Regions from separate parts of the Homo sapiens genome. Here region 2 is linked to region 1. The links come from fine-mapping of genetic effects on gene expression. Tissue or cell type: monocytes after R848. Region 1 holds a variant in brackets; the other region holds the start of a gene. All regions are shown on one strand. Distances are from middle to middle.

The links. PIP is the estimated chance that this variant, and not a neighbour inherited with it, causes the effect.
Region 2: RNF213-AS1 starts here. The variant in region 1 is fine-mapped to the expression of RNF213-AS1 in monocytes after R848 (Quach 2016, PIP 0.95).

Annotation. Positions count from the first base shown.
Region 1 is chr17:80,357,906-80,366,081 of GRCh38, reverse strand. It overlaps RNF213 (ring finger protein 213), which reads right to left. Exons shown (of 68, transcript NM_001256071.3): 37 at 7,603-7,794; 38 at 5,876-6,021; 39 at 4,194-4,348; 40 at 2,768-2,980; 41 at 2,292-2,473; 42 at 1,529-1,649. All of the region lies in intron 1 of RNF213-AS1 (RNF213 antisense RNA 1), which reads left to right. Among named protein-coding and RNA genes, the nearest start is that of ENDOV, 53 kb to the left of the region's middle. The variant C/T (reference allele first, on the strand shown) is at 4,682.
Region 2 is chr17:80,410,656-80,418,831 of GRCh38, reverse strand. It overlaps RNF213-AS1 (RNF213 antisense RNA 1), which reads left to right and starts at 3,664. Exons shown (of 2, transcript NR_029376.1): 1 at 3,664-3,903. It overlaps ENDOV (endonuclease V), which reads right to left and starts at 3,665. Exons shown (of 10, transcript NM_173627.5): 1 at 3,582-3,665; 2 at 3,011-3,182. The coding sequence starts at 3,637. RefSeq lists an enhancer at 3,143-3,232.

The DNA.
Region 1 (8,176 bases):
TGGGTAGGGGTACAAGTCAGGCTTCCAGCAGGAAAACTAACGAGGTAAGGTCTTTGGCTGTGGTTACCTGCACAGAGATCTGACTGGAAGGAAATAAACCAGAAACCCAGTAAGTTTCTGAGGCCATTTTATCGCCAAAAAAAACCCTCCCCACGTTCCTAACCTCCCAAATCCTGTGGGCATGTGAGCAGGCAGGGGCCAGCTCCTTTACCTTTGGGTTTATGGGCACCTGGCCCTTATGACCCACGCTGGACCTGGCTGAAAGCCCTGTGCATCTCCCAGAGCGCCGAGACATGATGAGACTTGGAGAGGCTGCATGCTGTGTGGGTGTGGGGAAAAGGGTGGAAGGGGGGCACCGGCTGTGTCCTACTATCCTCTCTCCGCCTTTTCCTTCAGCAGAAGAACTCAAGTTCCACCTGGAACATGACCATGCCACGAAAAACTCCTCAGTTTCTTGCAACCAGATAAGGCCGAGTGCCTAAGTTTAGGACCACGAGACACGAGCTGGTGTGGCGTGTGCGTGTCCGGGATTGGGCTCTTAAGGAAAACGGCCTGTCCTCTACCTCCCCTGCTTTCTGTCCCACAGGCTGTGACGCCAGGCCACGGGGTGGAAGCTGAACATTAGGGACAATGAAGGGACAAGACGGAGCGTGGGCACCTGACTCCGTGCCAGCCTCCGGGGAGCTGGTACCTTAGCCTTGGGCTGCTCATACCCATCCTGGGTGGGAAATCAGCTGATACTGTGTCTAAGCCGCTGATGTTTTGATAGGTCAGAGTCAACACATCCAGCATCCATGCTGGCCTCCTTTTAGTAAACCTTCCTGTGCTCCAAAGGTCGGACAGCCAGCGCTGCCTCTTCCAGACCCCCTGGCGGTGAGGGCTCTGGATGTGCTCACGTGAAGGTCACGGGTGCGGGTGAGGCAGAGGCTGAGGCTGTGTTTGGCTGAGTGGCCACTGTTGCTGGACACCACTGCGTGGCCACAGAGGGGCATCACTGTAGGGTCACAGGTTTCTTTCTGCAGACCACCCCACATTAGTAGCTTTATGAAGGGTGTTGAGTGACAGGCATGGTGGCTTCCTGTTCCTTGGTTCTGTTGACAGCACTGTTTTGAAGACCCCAAACCCCGGTGGCATTCTCTGACATCCTTGTCTCCATGACTATGAAAATGGTAACAGCTTCCACAGATGGCCAGGCTAGTGGTCTGTTCTGGGGTCACTCCAAAGGCCAGGTAATCCCTGCCGAAGGTTTCACAAGCATGTTCCCTGCGTCAGCCCCTTTCTGCACACAGTTCCTGGAATCACTTCTAAATGATATGCTCTGACTTAGCAATCAGCAGAGGGTAAATAATTAAACAATTAAACATGGAAAATGTAATGGCCTAGTGATGAAATCACCTTCCTTTGCATGTCTAGACAAAACGGTCAGAGCCAAAAGAGCGTCTCCCAGCCGCAGATCACTGTCAGTGCTGTTCTTCCTTTCGGAAAAGGGTGGATCCGTGCATGTGCTGAGGCCAGCCCAAGTACTCACCTTGTCTAGTAAGAAGACGTGCTCGGTCACCAGCCCCTGTAACTCGGGGACGCGGCTCTCGGTTCCTAGGAGCACGTGCTCCACGAAGAGTGCGGTGGAGAAAATCCGACTCCACTGGGCTCTGTCAAAAGAGGGCGCCACTCACTCACTCACTCGGCTCCCACCAAGGAACCCAAGGGTGAAACGAGGAGGGAGACGGGAGAAGAGATGCGGGACCCGGGGTCCAGGCCCAGCGGCTGGGATTACAAGCAAGCCCTATGTGACATACTTCCTGGCCCGCCCCCAGCTCTCGCTCTCAGACGCTCAGCTTAGCTGGGACTCGGTGTCCCACTGTGATGCCTCTGCATGGGGTACCACCACAACCCGCTCACTGCATGATCCTGCGCCTGTCAAGTCCCACCTCACCTTTAGGGAAGTGGACTCTGGCCCTGAGGGCCTGTCCTGCTCTGTGCACCTGCCCGCCCGGGGTGTCCTTTCTACCACAGCATTTCTCACACGGCATCACAATAGCCCGTCTGCCTTTCTACGGCCCCAGTACACAGTGCGCTCCCTGAATGCACAGCCGCCTCTCGTGTCTCCAGCACCCTAATGAGACGCCTGGCACTCACTAAGGGTTCGGCAAATGCGGAGTGAACGGGTGAGGACGGAGCCCCTCCCATGGCAGGAGCACCTGCCCGTCTTCTCATGGACATGCCTGGCACTTGGCAGGCTCCTGGTGAGCGCGCGCCAGATGAAGCAGTGGGTGAGGGCTCCTGGGTCTCACCTGACTTCCCTGATGACAGCCTGGGCCAGGCTCCCGCTGCCTTGCATGTGCTCATCGGAGCAGATGAGCTCCAGCGGCATGGAAAGATTCTTCACCAACTGTAGCCACGCCTGGGGACTGGGCTTCAGGGTGTTTCTTGTCAGCATCTCCGTGCAGGCCATTGCGGCAAATGCGTCCAGGGTCTGGGGAGACGGACAGCAGGGCGTGGCTGAGCGGTGCCCCTCCCACCGGCCCACCAGAGGCCCCGGCTGTTAGCTGCATGTATACTTGTGTCCCAGGCTTGCGACCTAAACTTTCATTGTCTAGGATGTGAGAAGCGTCAGCGAGATGTGTCCTTAACATCTCTGAATTCAGCTAAGGTATGTGCCTTGTGAAGAAATCTCCCACTTGGAACACAGCCCCAGAAGCTCTCCATTCCCAGAGTGGAGTTGGAAGCACCACAAGGCTTGCTCAGGGCAGGCGGAGGAGGGCCATACCATCTCACATCCAGCCAGCTCATGGTTCCAACGGGCTTCCATCAGGCTGTGGAGAACCTGAGGGTAGATGGTCAGGATTCTGGAAAAGTTCTGCAGACGGCTTCTGAAACGCTGGTAGGCAAGGTGCACCCACGGTAAGGAAACCTCTTCCTCGGGCGCTTCTGACGCCGCTTTCAGTTTCCTAGTGCAGGACCACAGAGCCATCTGCAGAAACTGGGATTCAAAAAAGCTTTTAGAATATATTTTTAAATTACAAAAATGGTATGTTTTCCCCGTGGGAAATCCGAACTATTGGAAAACCATAAAAGAGGAAATTAGAAACCATGTGTGCTATTCTGTCCCGTTTGCTTCTGTCCAGTTTTCTATCTGCCTCTCCTCCCACGTTAAGGTCACCGTGTCGTCTGGGCTTTTTGCCACTGAACATGACATCATGAACTTTCCCTATGACTGAGTATACTTGAAAAACATGGTTTTAATGGCTGCTCAATAACCCATCATACGGCCATACTTTAATTTGCCCATCCTGTATTTCCGGACAATTAAACTATTTCTTATTTTTCGAAGCAAAGCTGAAAAGGACATCCCTGTGAACCAAATATTTGTCCACATCTCCAGTAGTTTCCTCAGGACAGAGTCAGCAGTTCAGATCGGATAAGGTGCTCAACTGTTCTGCCACGCAGCCCTGCAGGGCGCCCACTGTGCACGCTACACTGTCAGCCGCGTGGCCTGGCTATTTCTTTGCAGCACTGGCCGGCGGCTGTTGTTTTTAAAAATCAGCTTTGCAAAATGAATACGTAAACATGATATCTAAAAACTGTTGTGTTGATTTGCTATTAATAGTAAGGCTAAGCAATTTTTCAAATGTTTCCTGGATGTTGATATGCTTAATGAGATTATAAAATTGTTGTTTTATAACGTTTACCCATTTTTTAAAACTTAGGGTATTTTCTTATTGATTCCTAAGAATATTAACCTCTAGTCATATTAGCTGTAAGGATGTTCTTAAATTTGTCACTCTCCTTTTTTATGTACTGAAGTTTAAAATTTTTAGGTAGTCAAAAGTATGACTTTCTATTGAATTTCACTTGTTTATTCTTACCCTGTAGGGTTAGTTACGTATTTAATTTTTTTCAAGAGAAACTCAACATTTAAAAAGAAGCTATGTCAAGGAAATTGGAGGTCTTCTCATGTTCACAGAAAGCTCCGTGTTTTAGGAGCCCCTGGGCGGTGGACTGAGGGTGTAGCACTGAATATTGAGAGGAGACTGGGCGACCCCTTCACCCACCGGCACCCTTCGCTGACCATGTTCTGTTCCCAGACTTCACAGCACCAGCTCCAGGCAGCTGAGGAAACGTCTCCGTGTCTGCATCCAGTCCCCATCATGCAAGCTCTACACCTGACCCTTAGCCAGTATCTAAACATCTACCTTTAATTCCTCCTCCGTTGACACACGCATGGTCAAGAGAATGAAATCCTTCAAGTAACACTGAAGAAGTTCCTGCTGCGGCTCTCCATGGAGCTGGGCAAGAAACCTGCCCAGAGGAGTCTGCTGAAAGATGTCCACGAACTTCTTGGGCAGTCCTGCAGAGAGGAAACCAAGGAGCGGCCTGGAGTGCGTCTAAGTCATGGCGCTCCCCTGCCTCCAGGGGGCTCCGGAGTGAAGGGGAATGGGGACGCCTTGTTGAATGGGAGCTCGTAGACAAAGGGGTACCAACTGCCTGATTTTGTAGGGAATTGAAGGAATAGTCACTGTCTAGACATTTAGGATATTTTTCTTTTTCCTTTTTTTTGGAGATGGAGTCTTACTCTGTTGCCCAGGCTGGAGTGCGGTGGGTAGCGTGATCTCTGCTCACTGCAACCTCCGCCTCCCAGGTTCAAGTGATTCTCCTGCCTCAGCCTACCAAGTAGCTGGGA[C/T]TACAGGCATGCACCACCACACCCAGCTAATTTTTTGTATTTTTAGTAGAGACGGGGTTTCACCATGTTGGTCAGGCTGGTCTCGAACTCCTGACCTCAGGTGATCTGCCGGCCTTGGCCTCCCAAGGTGTTGTGAACCACTGCGCCTGGCCTAGGATATTTTTCCAGTGGAATAAAATAAAGGAAGGCGGAAACAGTGTCAAATTTAGGTCAGAAACAGCCAAGCTAGCCCCAAAGAGAAACATCTAGATAAGACTGAGTTGTATGTTGCATGGCTACATTGTATGTTGCATGGCTACAGGTCACAGCATGCTTCAGGAACCCCCGGGTCCAAGTAAATTAGGAACAAGTGGGCTGCTCTTCAGGGGCTGGGGGTCACAGAGCATGCAAGCCAGAAAGATCTGGCTTCTAGTGGGCGGGGTGCAGCCCCTAATTCGCATGCTGTCATAGAAAAGCAGGGTCAGTTGGGGTATTGTCCTGAGAAAGGAATATGCTCATGAGGAGAGAGACTGCTTTGAGAAAAAGTGGCAGAATGGTAACCTAGAAAAGAAGGCCACCCTGAGTCTTCCAAATGGTACGATAAGTAAACGTGGAAAAGACTATTGCATGTATGAAAGATGGCTTTTGTAAAAGTGTTGCGTTGTCGTTGGTTTTTCTGGACTAGGGCAAATCTTCTGGCATCTGGCAGCAGAGCTCAGCACTGTGTCTGGGCTGTGACTCGGGAGACACAGCTGGGAGGTGCCTCCTGATGGGGCACCTGGGAGTAGGGGATGCTCCAGGCGCTCGTGCCTTCTGAGAACGCCTCTCCTGGGGGCATCTTCCGAGTCCAGTGCCCCAGTCTGAGAAGGCCCAGAATGGGAATGACCAGCTGATAGAGGCGACAGTCCTCCTCTTGCCAGAACACACCCCATTTCGCCATATCCCTGGCCATCACGGCACTAAAAACCATCTCACAGGCTCCTGCTGCCATAGGATCGAAAGGTTTCTGGTCCCGCCGGGGCCTCTCACTCCTTCAGCAGAAACTTTAAAATGACGCGGTGACGTAAATTGGACGCTTACTGCACAAACAAAGTGTGAAAACTAAAAACTCCAAAATTCACCTTGCAATTCTAGCCACCCATCTGCTTTTCACTGTCAGGCAATCCCTTTGTGATTCACCTGTGCTGAATCTGACCTGTCTTGAGGTAGCCTCACCTTCTGCGTCTGTGATGTACTGAGCCTGGACCCACAGCTCCTCCAGATAGTCCTTGATTTTCCAGCTGAAAGGGACGTTGTTGGAAGCGTTCTCGGAAAGGTTCATGTGGTTCTGCACCACGATGTAGGCCATCTCACCTTTATGTCTGCAATAAGGTGAGGGATGATAAGAAGAGGGTTTGTGAGACGTCACTCAAAACACAAGATAAGATCTGCCACTGATGCCAGCTCTTCTCAGACCTCAAAAACAAAGGGGCCAACAGGCCAGGCAGACGGCGCTGATCTGTTTCACAGTACAGGGTTTCTGTTATGACAGAACTAGGGAACTGTCTTATGCAATCTTTGTTTCACAGGCAAAACAAAAACAAACCAAGGCTGACAGGGGTCAAGTGTGTTGCCCAAAATCTCGGGCAGAACCAAGTCTTCTGGTTCCTGAACCTGTCTGGCTTTGATAACTTGTAACACAGAGCACAACTTGTTAGAGTCTTTGCTTCATGAACATCAGCAGCGCCTTGTCTTTTAAATAAGTGTTTCCACTGGCAATTCAAATTCCATTTCTTTCTTTCTCTCACTCTTTCTTTCTTTACTTTCTTTCTCTCTTTCTCTCGCTCTTTCTTTCTCTTTCTTCCTTCTGTCTCCCTCCCTCTCTCACTCTTTTTTTTTTTTTTTTTTTTTTTTTTTTGAGATAGAGTCTCACTCTGTCACCACCCAGGCTAGAGTGCAGTGAGTGGTGTGATCCTATCTCACCTCAAACTCCTGGGCTCAAGCAATCCTCCCGCCTCAGCTTCTAGAGTAGCTGGGACTACAGGTGCGCACCACGTTATGCCTAATTTTTAAATTTTTTGTAGTGATGGGGTCTCACTATGTTGCCCAAGCTGGTCTTCAACCCCTGGGTTCAAGAAACTTTCCTGCCTCAGCCTACTAAATTGCTGGGGTTATAGGCATGAGCCACCGAGCCTGGGCACATTTATTTCTATATTCTTTATAAATCTACATCCAGAATTGAAGCCCCTGAAAGCTGAAGTGGAAGCTATTGGGAGCTGAGCCTGAGCCGCACATCATCAGGCCTGCGGAAGGGGGTGGGGGCTGTGCCGCTCCACCAGGGAATGAGGGACGGGGAGGGAGCACAGATCCCAGGGGTAAGGAGCACAGATTGTGGGGCTGTTCGCAGCGCACTGTCTCCGTGTCACGCCATGCTGGGTCTGGCTAGAACCAGTGCTCTGAAAGCAGGGAAATGAGGAGGGTGGAGATAAAACAGAAATTTCTCAGAGCTTCGTAAACTTCCTATTCTTTTTTTTTGAGACAGAGTCTTGCTCTGTCACCAGGCTGGAGTGCAGTGGCGCCATCTCGGCTCACTGCAACCTCCGCCTCCCAGGTTCAAGCAATTCTCCTGCCTCAGCCTCCCAAATAGCTGGGAATACAGGCACGCGCCACCACGCCCAGCTAATTTTTGTATTTTTAGTAGAGACGGGGTTTCACCACGTTGGCCAGGACGGTCTTGATCTCTTGACCTCATGATCCACCTGCCTCGGCCTCCCAAAGTGCTGGGATTACAGGCGTGAGCCACCATGCCCGGCCAAACTTCCTATTGTTACTGCAGAAAGCACCCATGTCAACGTTGCTCTGAAGTTGAGGGCTGCGTTTCACCCAGCACTTGGGAGAGCATATTAGGGTCCTGCTGTGTTCTGATAGTTTCTCTCCCCAGGGAAAGAAAGCCTTCCACTCACCTTTCATTATTCATCACAAGAGGAATGTTCAGAAGCATCGTGTCACTGAAAATAAACATCCAAAGATCTCTTGCCCAGGGCGGAGTATCTGGCCTGGTCAGTAACTCTAGGTTGCCGTCTCTGTCGATGAATGATATCATGCTCGCCAGCAGAGGGGTGACAGCACCTTGGACCCGCTTCCAGAGGGTGTGCCTGCAGCACAGAAGAGAGATGGGCCACCACGGGTCAGAGGAACCAGAGTGGCGGTCTGCCACCTTTTGACATTTTGTTCCTTCTTGAGCATTAACAAAACAACTAGTCTACTATTTACCACACTACAGCGACAGCAATAACTTGACATTTCCATCATTTTTAAGTCCTAGAAAACAGACTCACAAAGATGTCTAAGATTAGAGACGGAACTGGAATGGAACTTAATTCTACATCTAATAAACTGTCATTAGGTTACTGGAAGGGTGAAGTAGTGTTTGCTTTTTTATTTTTAAAACATGTATGTGAGGGTCTCACTCTGTCACGCCAACTGCGGTGTAGTGACACAATCATAGATCGTCATAACCTGGAATACCTGGGCTCA
Region 2 (8,176 bases), 53 kb before region 1:
TTTAAAACATATAATGCGATGGTTTTGGTATTTACAGAGTTGTGCAATATCACTACAATCTAACTTTAGAACATTTTCCTTAACCCCTAAATAAACCTCATCCTCATCAGCAGTCACTTCCCATCCATCCCACCCCAACTCCAAGGCCCAAGGATCCACTTTCTGTCTCTGTGGATGTGCCTACGGAATCTGTTTCTCAACACACTTCTGGGTGATTCTGCTCCTGCAGGTCCACGGTCGGGCATTCAGGAACCAGTGGACCAGACTGTTCCAAGATCCTTTCCTAGTCTAAGCTTTCATAGCCGGAACAATGAATACCGACGAAGTAGCAGGTGCTTTGCTTGGTGCTGGGGTTGTAAAAGAAATATGGTACACCCTACTCTTGAGAACCTACAGTCAGTGGGAAAAATGGAATCATAAATGACTAACTTTAATACAATGTGAGAAGCGCTCTAACAGCATGTGCATTCAAAAGAGGCCCAGGATGCAGATGAGGTGATTAATTTGCAGCCAGGAGAAGTTGGAGGGGGAAGGGAATGCTGTGTTAACTGCTTTCCATGCATTTCATGTACTGCTCATCACAATTCTGTGAGCTGGATATTAATACCACTATCATCCTCAAGTCAGAAAAAAGGAGACAGAGGCCTAGAGGGCAAAGTGGGGAGTGGCAGAGTTGGGTGTGAGCATGAGTAGTCAGGACCCTAAGACTGTGTCCCCACTCCCTATGCTAGCCTACACAATGGCCAGGGGACCTCTTAGAGTAGGGGCTGCTGAATATCCCAATCTTAGCACACAGTAGGCACTCAGTACATTTTTGCTTGATTTGGACTGAAAAGGGCCTCCCAAGTAAAGCACAAAGCCATGGAAGCAGGAAGACGTTTGTCACCTTCGGGAGTCAGCAGAGGAGCAATGCGAGTGACGCCAAGAGGCTTCCGGAGCTGTTGACTCTTATGTGAATCATGAGCCCACTGTCCATTCACACACGTATCTCTTGAAGGAAGAGTCCAGCGTCTTCCTCATGCTATCCATGGTGGGCAAAGCAACATGGTTTCTACCATCATGGAGTTTATATTCCAGTAGGGAAGACAGGCCAGTTCCATCCCAGCAAGACAAGAGGAAGCAGAGGGTTGCTACGGTCTAAATGCTGGTGTCCTCCCCAAATTCCTATGTTGAAATTATAACCCATAGGTGATGGTATTACGAGGTGGGGCCTCTAGGGAGGTGAGTGGATCACCATGTGAGAACACGGTTAAGAAGCTGGCCCTGTGCAACCTGAAAGAGCGCCGTCACCACAACCTGATTGCGCTGGCACCCTGATCTTGAGCCTCCAGCCTCCAGAACTGTGAGAAATAAATTCCTGCTGTGGGTAGGCCACCCAGTCTAAGGTATTCTATTACAGCAGCCCAAACGGACTAAGACATGGTGCTGAGGGACAAGTCCTCGTCTTGTGGGATGAGAGGGAGCTTAGTGGAGGACGTCATGTCTAAACTGAGCCCAAAGAGATGAGTAGTAGTTAGCCAGATGGAAACCCTTCCAGAAGAAACATTACTGCAAAGGTCAGGCCGCCAAATACAGCGTAGCAAACACGTGAGGGACTCACAGTGGGCTGTAGGAGGTGGGAAGAACTGAGAATAGTGGTGAGGGCTGAGCCTCCAGCGTCATATTAAATTACGCAGGGGACAGGTCATGACGGGCCTTGAAGCCATGCCAACCAGAGTGAACTTTATTCACCATGAGGTCATGAGAAGGGCACTTCAATGTTCTAAGAGGACTTGTGGGCTGGGTGTGGTGGTTCCCACCTGTAATCTCAGCACTTGGGGAGGCCAAGGTAGGAGGATCCCTTGAGCCCAGGAGCTGGAGACCACCCTGGGCAACATAGTGAGATCCTGTCTCTACAAAAAATAAAAAAATAAGCCGGGTGTAGTGGCTCACACCTGTGGTCCTAGCTACTCAGGCTAAGGTGGGAGGATCACTTGAGTCCAGGAGGTTGAGATCAGATCTTGACAGTGAGCCAAGATTATGCCACTGCACTTCAGCCTGGGCACAGAGTGGGGGAAGGGGAAAGGAAGGAAAGAGAGACAGAGAGAGGAAGGAAGGGAGGAAGGAAGGAAGGAAGGAAGGGAGGGAGGGAGGGAGGGAGGGGACTTGTTGCTTTTGAGGAAAATACTTGCTTTTTAGGAAAATTGGTCTGCTGGCAGTATGGAAAAGAAACCACTGAGGAGGAACATTTGAGCCAGGGCACCCATGAAAATGCTGCTCAGGAACCCACAGGAGTGATGGTGGCACAGCCAGGGAAGGAGCAGAGGGGAAACAGACAAGGGGACAGATTCCAGCGACATTTAAGAGGCAGAATAAAAGCGAGCTAGTGTGCAACTGGACGCGAGAGGAACGGAGGGGCCCAGGAGGATGCAGATCTCCAGCTTGGGCAACTGGGAGCGTGGTGGACAGGTCACTGAGATGAAGAACCCAAGATAACAATCAGACTTGAAGATAAAGCTCATGAGCTGATTCTTAATAGTCACAGAATTCCCTTAATTTTTGCCTTTTTTTCCCTTCCAAGACTCCCCAGACTTTTTTTTTTTTTTTTTTTTTTTGAGATGGAGTTTCGCTCTTGTTGCCGAGGCTGGAGTGCAATGGCGTGATGTTGGCTCACCGCAACCTCCGCCTCCCGGGTTCAAGCGATTCTCCCGCCTCAGCCTTCCGAGTAGCTGGGATTACAGGTATATGCCACCACACCCGTCTAATTTTGTATTTTTAGTAGAGACCGGGTTTCTCCATGTTGGTCAGGCTGGTCTCGAACTCCCGACCTCAGGTGATTCCCCCGCCTCAGCCTCCCAAAGTGCTGGGATTGCAGGCGTGAGCCACCGCGCCCGGCCAACTCCCCAGACTATTAATGACATCCTACAAAACGAGAAGCCGGGTTCTACGCTTGCACTGCTCCCTGTCCCGGAGACCGCACGCCCGAGCCCACCGAGGGGCCCGCCTCGAGCTCGGCGTCCTCCCAGGTTACCTCGAGCTCAGGGAAGCTGAGCACCACCAGGGAAGCACAAGCGCGGACACTGTCCCCTTTCACGAAGGACACGTCAACGCCCCCGACCCTCTGCAGACCCGAGAAGGCGGGGTCTCGCTGCCACGCCTCGGTGTCCCGGTCTACGACGTGGGCCTTCAGCCGAGCTTGCTCCCTAGGAGGACAGAAGCGTCAAACTTGGTCGGGGTCACACCTCAGACTCTGCCTCCTCCACCCGCGCGGCTGCAGCGGACAGAGCGCCTCTGCCGGGTCTTCTCCCGCTTCAAGGGAAAGCAAGGGACATACCGCCGAGGCCACAGTCCCTAGGAGCCCAGGCGGCGGAGACCCGCGCAAGCGCAGGCCAGACAAACTGGCCGGAAGCGAGAACCGCGCCCACCCCGCGGACTACAATTCCTGAGATCCCTCCGCTTCCGCGCCGGAAACTGGGCTTTGCTTTGGAGTCTCGGGCGGTGGCAGCTCCGATTCCACAGCCTGAAGACTATGAGCTCGGAGGGTCCGCGAAGGGCCGCCCGGCCTCGGCCCCCGCCTCCTGCGCGTCGCCTGACAGCATTACCGTTTCCACAGTGACAGCGTTTCCTCCGGCGGCCCTCCCGCCGCCTCCAGGGCCATGGCTTCGTCCCGGGCACCCCTTCCGCACGTCACTTCCGGAAGCGACTCGCTCTGACGCCGTCCGCCCTCGTTGCCATGGAGACGCTTGCGCTTTCCCGGGCCGCACTTCCCACCCGGGTCTTCAGAAGCCCGTGGCCGCTGGGTGAGCCCCTGCGTGAACGCACACGCACGCACACGGCTTCAGGTTGCCCCGCGGCGCCGCGCGCGATATCGGCTCGGATCCCGGGAGGCCGTCCGCCCCTTTTTCAGCGGATAGCTGAGGCCAGGTAAGTGACCGCGCGAGGACCCGGGAACTCCGTGACGCCCGTCCCGCCTCTGCTGTCCCCGCCGCAAGCGCTGCGCTCTGCACGGCGAGAGGGGCCTCTTGCCCTGTTGAGAGCCGGCGGGCACGGCACTTCTGCGCTTGGAAAAGGGTGGTCCAGCACTGCAGGTCCCACTCCTTGGCCCGGTCAGCGTCCGCCTTTGCTGAACCCCGAAAGGATTCACCAGGTCCAGGACAGCCCGGCAGTTGCCTCAGGAGCACTTACTGAGCGCCTGTCGTTGACGCCCCCACCTCGATGGCAGCTCAGGGGTGCCCTCAAGCTTTTGAGGGCAGGTGTCGTGTATTTAAATTCTTCACAGTTTAGCGGGCTGGACTCACGGGGGTGCTGCAGACTTGGACGGGGTTTCATCTGGGTCGGACCTTGCTGGGCAGAAAGCTTCTCCTACCAGACAAAGTACGGCGACCTTGGGGGGTCTTGGTTCTTACCTCGTGTTCCTCATTGAATGAGTGTTGGTTCAGTGCTCTCGCTGTGCCAGGTGTTGTGCGAAGTACTGTGAGGGAGAATATGTATTTATTTGTGGGGAGCCGACTTTAAACCGGTGGTTGGGAAAGGCCTGAGAGGCGATATTGAAGACACCTGAAGGGTGAGTGAAAGAGCACGGCGGGTGAGTGGAGCAGCTTTCTCGTGCAGGTCCCGGGGTGGGAAAGAGGTTGGTGTATTTGAAGCACTGAAAGGCAGCCACTGAAGCTGAAGTGTAGCAGTTTAACCCATGGTTTTATATTCTCCTGGGAGGATTCAGAAGGGTGTATGTGTGTATGTATATATAATAGCCTGAATATAAACGTCAAGGGTGTTAGGTTTTGAAGGGAAGGTGAAGGTTAAAGAATGACGCACAGTGAGATTGCCGGCGCGCGGGCGGCTCTACAGCAACACAGGTGTATTGCAAACACCTGTCGGGGGCCAGCTTAATGCCAGAGCCCACCAGCGATTACAGGCTGGGGTACTCATAGGCCTGGGCAGGAGGGATCTAGGCAGTATGGCTTGCTGTCCGGGAAGATGTTAACGTGTTCCCAGGATGAGGTGGTTCCGGCAGAATGTGGTGTTCCTGGCGCTTTGTCCCAGCAGAATATGTTAAGAGGCAGGCTGTTTCTCATGGCTCGAACCCCCGTGGAATGTTTCACTTTGACCAAGGTCTACAAAATGGAAAGGGGCTTACAAAATGACGCAGTTTGGACTAACAAAGGGGAAAATACAGAGGATGAAATTAGACTCTAGAGGTTGAGGCTCAGGAAAGGCTTCATACAGCTTTGGGAACTGACAAGGCTTTGAAAGCAGGGTCAGTTTTCAGCGAATGAGCGTCACCCACTGCACCCTGCGCACCCTGCTCCCCTGCTGCGGTGTCTTTCCCACCAGAGTGTAGCAGGACAAGCCGCAGACAAAACCCCTCAGACACCGAGTTAAAGAAGGGCTTTATTCAGCTGGGAGCTTCGGCAAGACTCACGTCTCCAACAACCGAGCTCCCCGAGTGAGCAATTCCTGTCCCTTTTAAGGGCTCACAACTCTTCAGGGGTCTGCGTGAGAGGGTCGTGATTGATTGAGCAAGCAGGGGGTACGTGACTGGGGGCTGCATGCACCCGTAATTAGAACGGAACAGAACAGGACAGGGATTTTCACGGTGCTTTTCTATATAACGTCTGTAATCTATAGATAGCATCACTGATTAGGTCAGGCGTCGATCTTTAACTACCAGGCCCAGGGTGTGGTGCAGGCTGTCTGCTTGTGGATTTCATTTCTGCCTTTTAGTTTTTACTTCTCTCTTTGGAGGCAGAAATTGGGCGTAAAACAATATGAGGGGTGGTCTCCCTTATTCTCCCTCTCTGAGAATCTCACTCAGTAGTGGGAGTTGTCACTTTTATTTTTACTACCTATGTTTTCTTGCAAGACAGATCGATAGTGATTCATATAGTACAGTTGTGCTGAAGCATTTTGGTGAACTAAGGTAGCGATGAAGCTTTTTATCATTTGAAGAAGTATGGGTAGCAAACAAGGGAGCAGAACGCAGGTTTCTATTGCTATTGTAACTCCTAATATAAGAGTTTTAAATCTTTTTAGTGCTGGGAACCATTTTCCAAACATGGCCCCAGGACCAAATCCATGCCACACTTGCACGGGCACATGTGCCAGTTTTGTCATATTTCTAACTGTGTCTTCAACTAATTGCCCTCGATCATCTATGTGTAGACAGCAATTAGTAAGGTTAAATTTTTTACAGACCTCTCCTTCAGCTGCTAGCAAGTAGTCGAGAGCCAATCTATTTTGATAGATAGCATTTCTCATCTGAGTTTCTTGCCAGGCCAGAATAGTCAAGGCTCTGCCGGTCTTATTAGTGATTATTTCTAAGACAGCTTGTAACCGTATGATTCGGTTGAGCATGTAAATGGGGGTCGGGTATCCCTAGGAGCCATCTTGTGCCTAAGTACCAGGCCCATAATATTGTATGATTCTTTCAGGGGGCCATGTATTATCTTTTGAATTTTTTATAGCTATGCTTCTCTTTTTGCGGGAAGCACAGACAGGGAAGCCCAGGAGTTCGCCTGTCTTTATGGGCAGTAGGAAGAAAGATGGTTTAATAGTGCCAATAACATGACTACCTGCCCACTGGTCGGGTAATTTGGTGTAAACTCTATGCCTACATATCCAGTATAATCCAGTGGGGGCTGTCCAGTCCCTGTGGGACTCCGGGTGGGTTCACACAGTTTGCAACTTTGGGAATTTACTAAATGGATTTTTCTTAGTGTGGTTTGAACTCCACTAGGTGGCTGTTTTTGTAGTAGTATTATACAGTTTTTGCCTAAGCAGCTGAGTCTTCCCACAGGAAAGGTGAAGTCCTTCCCCACTCTTGCTATATACAGTATTGTCTAATGATTGAGGCTTTTAGGACCCAGAAGTTATCAGGGTGATTCTTTTGAGCCGGGAATTCATCAGGAACTGGGTCTGTAGGTACTAATTCTCGGGCTTCCCGTGGCCATTGATCTCCCATTACAGTTCGTCCACACACATAACATGAAGTGACATTGAGAGACTGGGCCACATGCTCGGCTAATTGCAAAAACAAATGTCTTGTTTTTCCTGGAATTTCTGGTGCAGGCACATTCAGTTGATCATAGAAGGTTTGAAATACTGTCTCAGGAGAGCGTTTATAAATTTCTCCTCAAACCATGATATTTACTCAAGGATCCAGTTCAGCCCCATTGATTCCTAGGGTTACATGCTCCCCTTTTTTCCAGCGAGGATCAAGGGGGTTGGTTATTACTAGTTCTAAGGGGTTACACTGACCACTGGTACAGGAAGGGCCACTTTTTCCTTTTTGAAGGTGGACAGGATCCTTTTTATTTTTTATTTAAGTAGCCTAAATGACACAAGACCAGTATTTACATTTATTTCCACACAGTTTTAATTTATGACAAATGTACTTATTTTTTGTCATATGGCCTCTTTTCTAATTAAGGGAACCACATTCTATTTTTAACTTATTACTATTAATGACAGCACAGGCATCAAACTTTAAAGTGACTTGTTTGGGCACCCCTTTTTCTTTCATTTTGGCTAACACTTTACTCGTATCGTTTATGAGTCCCTACCAGTCCTCAGTCCTTAATCTTATTTCAAAAGCTGTGGTCATGGGAGACTCAGGTCATAACACACATCAGGTTGGTCATTTCTTGGGCTACATACCTTGCATAGAATAGCATTATACAAACTTTTTTTTTTTTTAGAGTCCTGGTACACTTACAATAATCATAAAATAATAGGACTGTGGCAACTTTTTGTCCTACCTCAGTGACTTGATGTATACACTGGGAACAGTCCTCAGTCTGAGGAAGGTCAGTTGAAGTCCTTACTGTACAAGTCCAAATTTTAAGGAAAATGAGTCCCACGATGAGTTTTCTCATGCTTCGGCCGTGTGTGGACCAGTCAGCTTCCAGTTGTGACTGGAGCAGGGCTTGTCGTCTTCCTCAGAGTCACTTTGCAGGGGCTGGCGAAGCTGCTTCCGTCCACGTACCACTCACAGCCTACTGATGTTCAAGGATGGTCTCGGAGGTTGCGCCTGCTAGAATAAACTGAGTCCAACACCTCTACACAGTTATGTTCAACTGGGCTCTCTCATATCAGGAGCAAGGTGGCGGGGTTTAGCGTGTTGCAAACTGCAGTGGTTATGTGGGGATTTTCACGTAGCAAGCTTTGGTACTTGGTTAATCTAGCATTTGTTAACCAG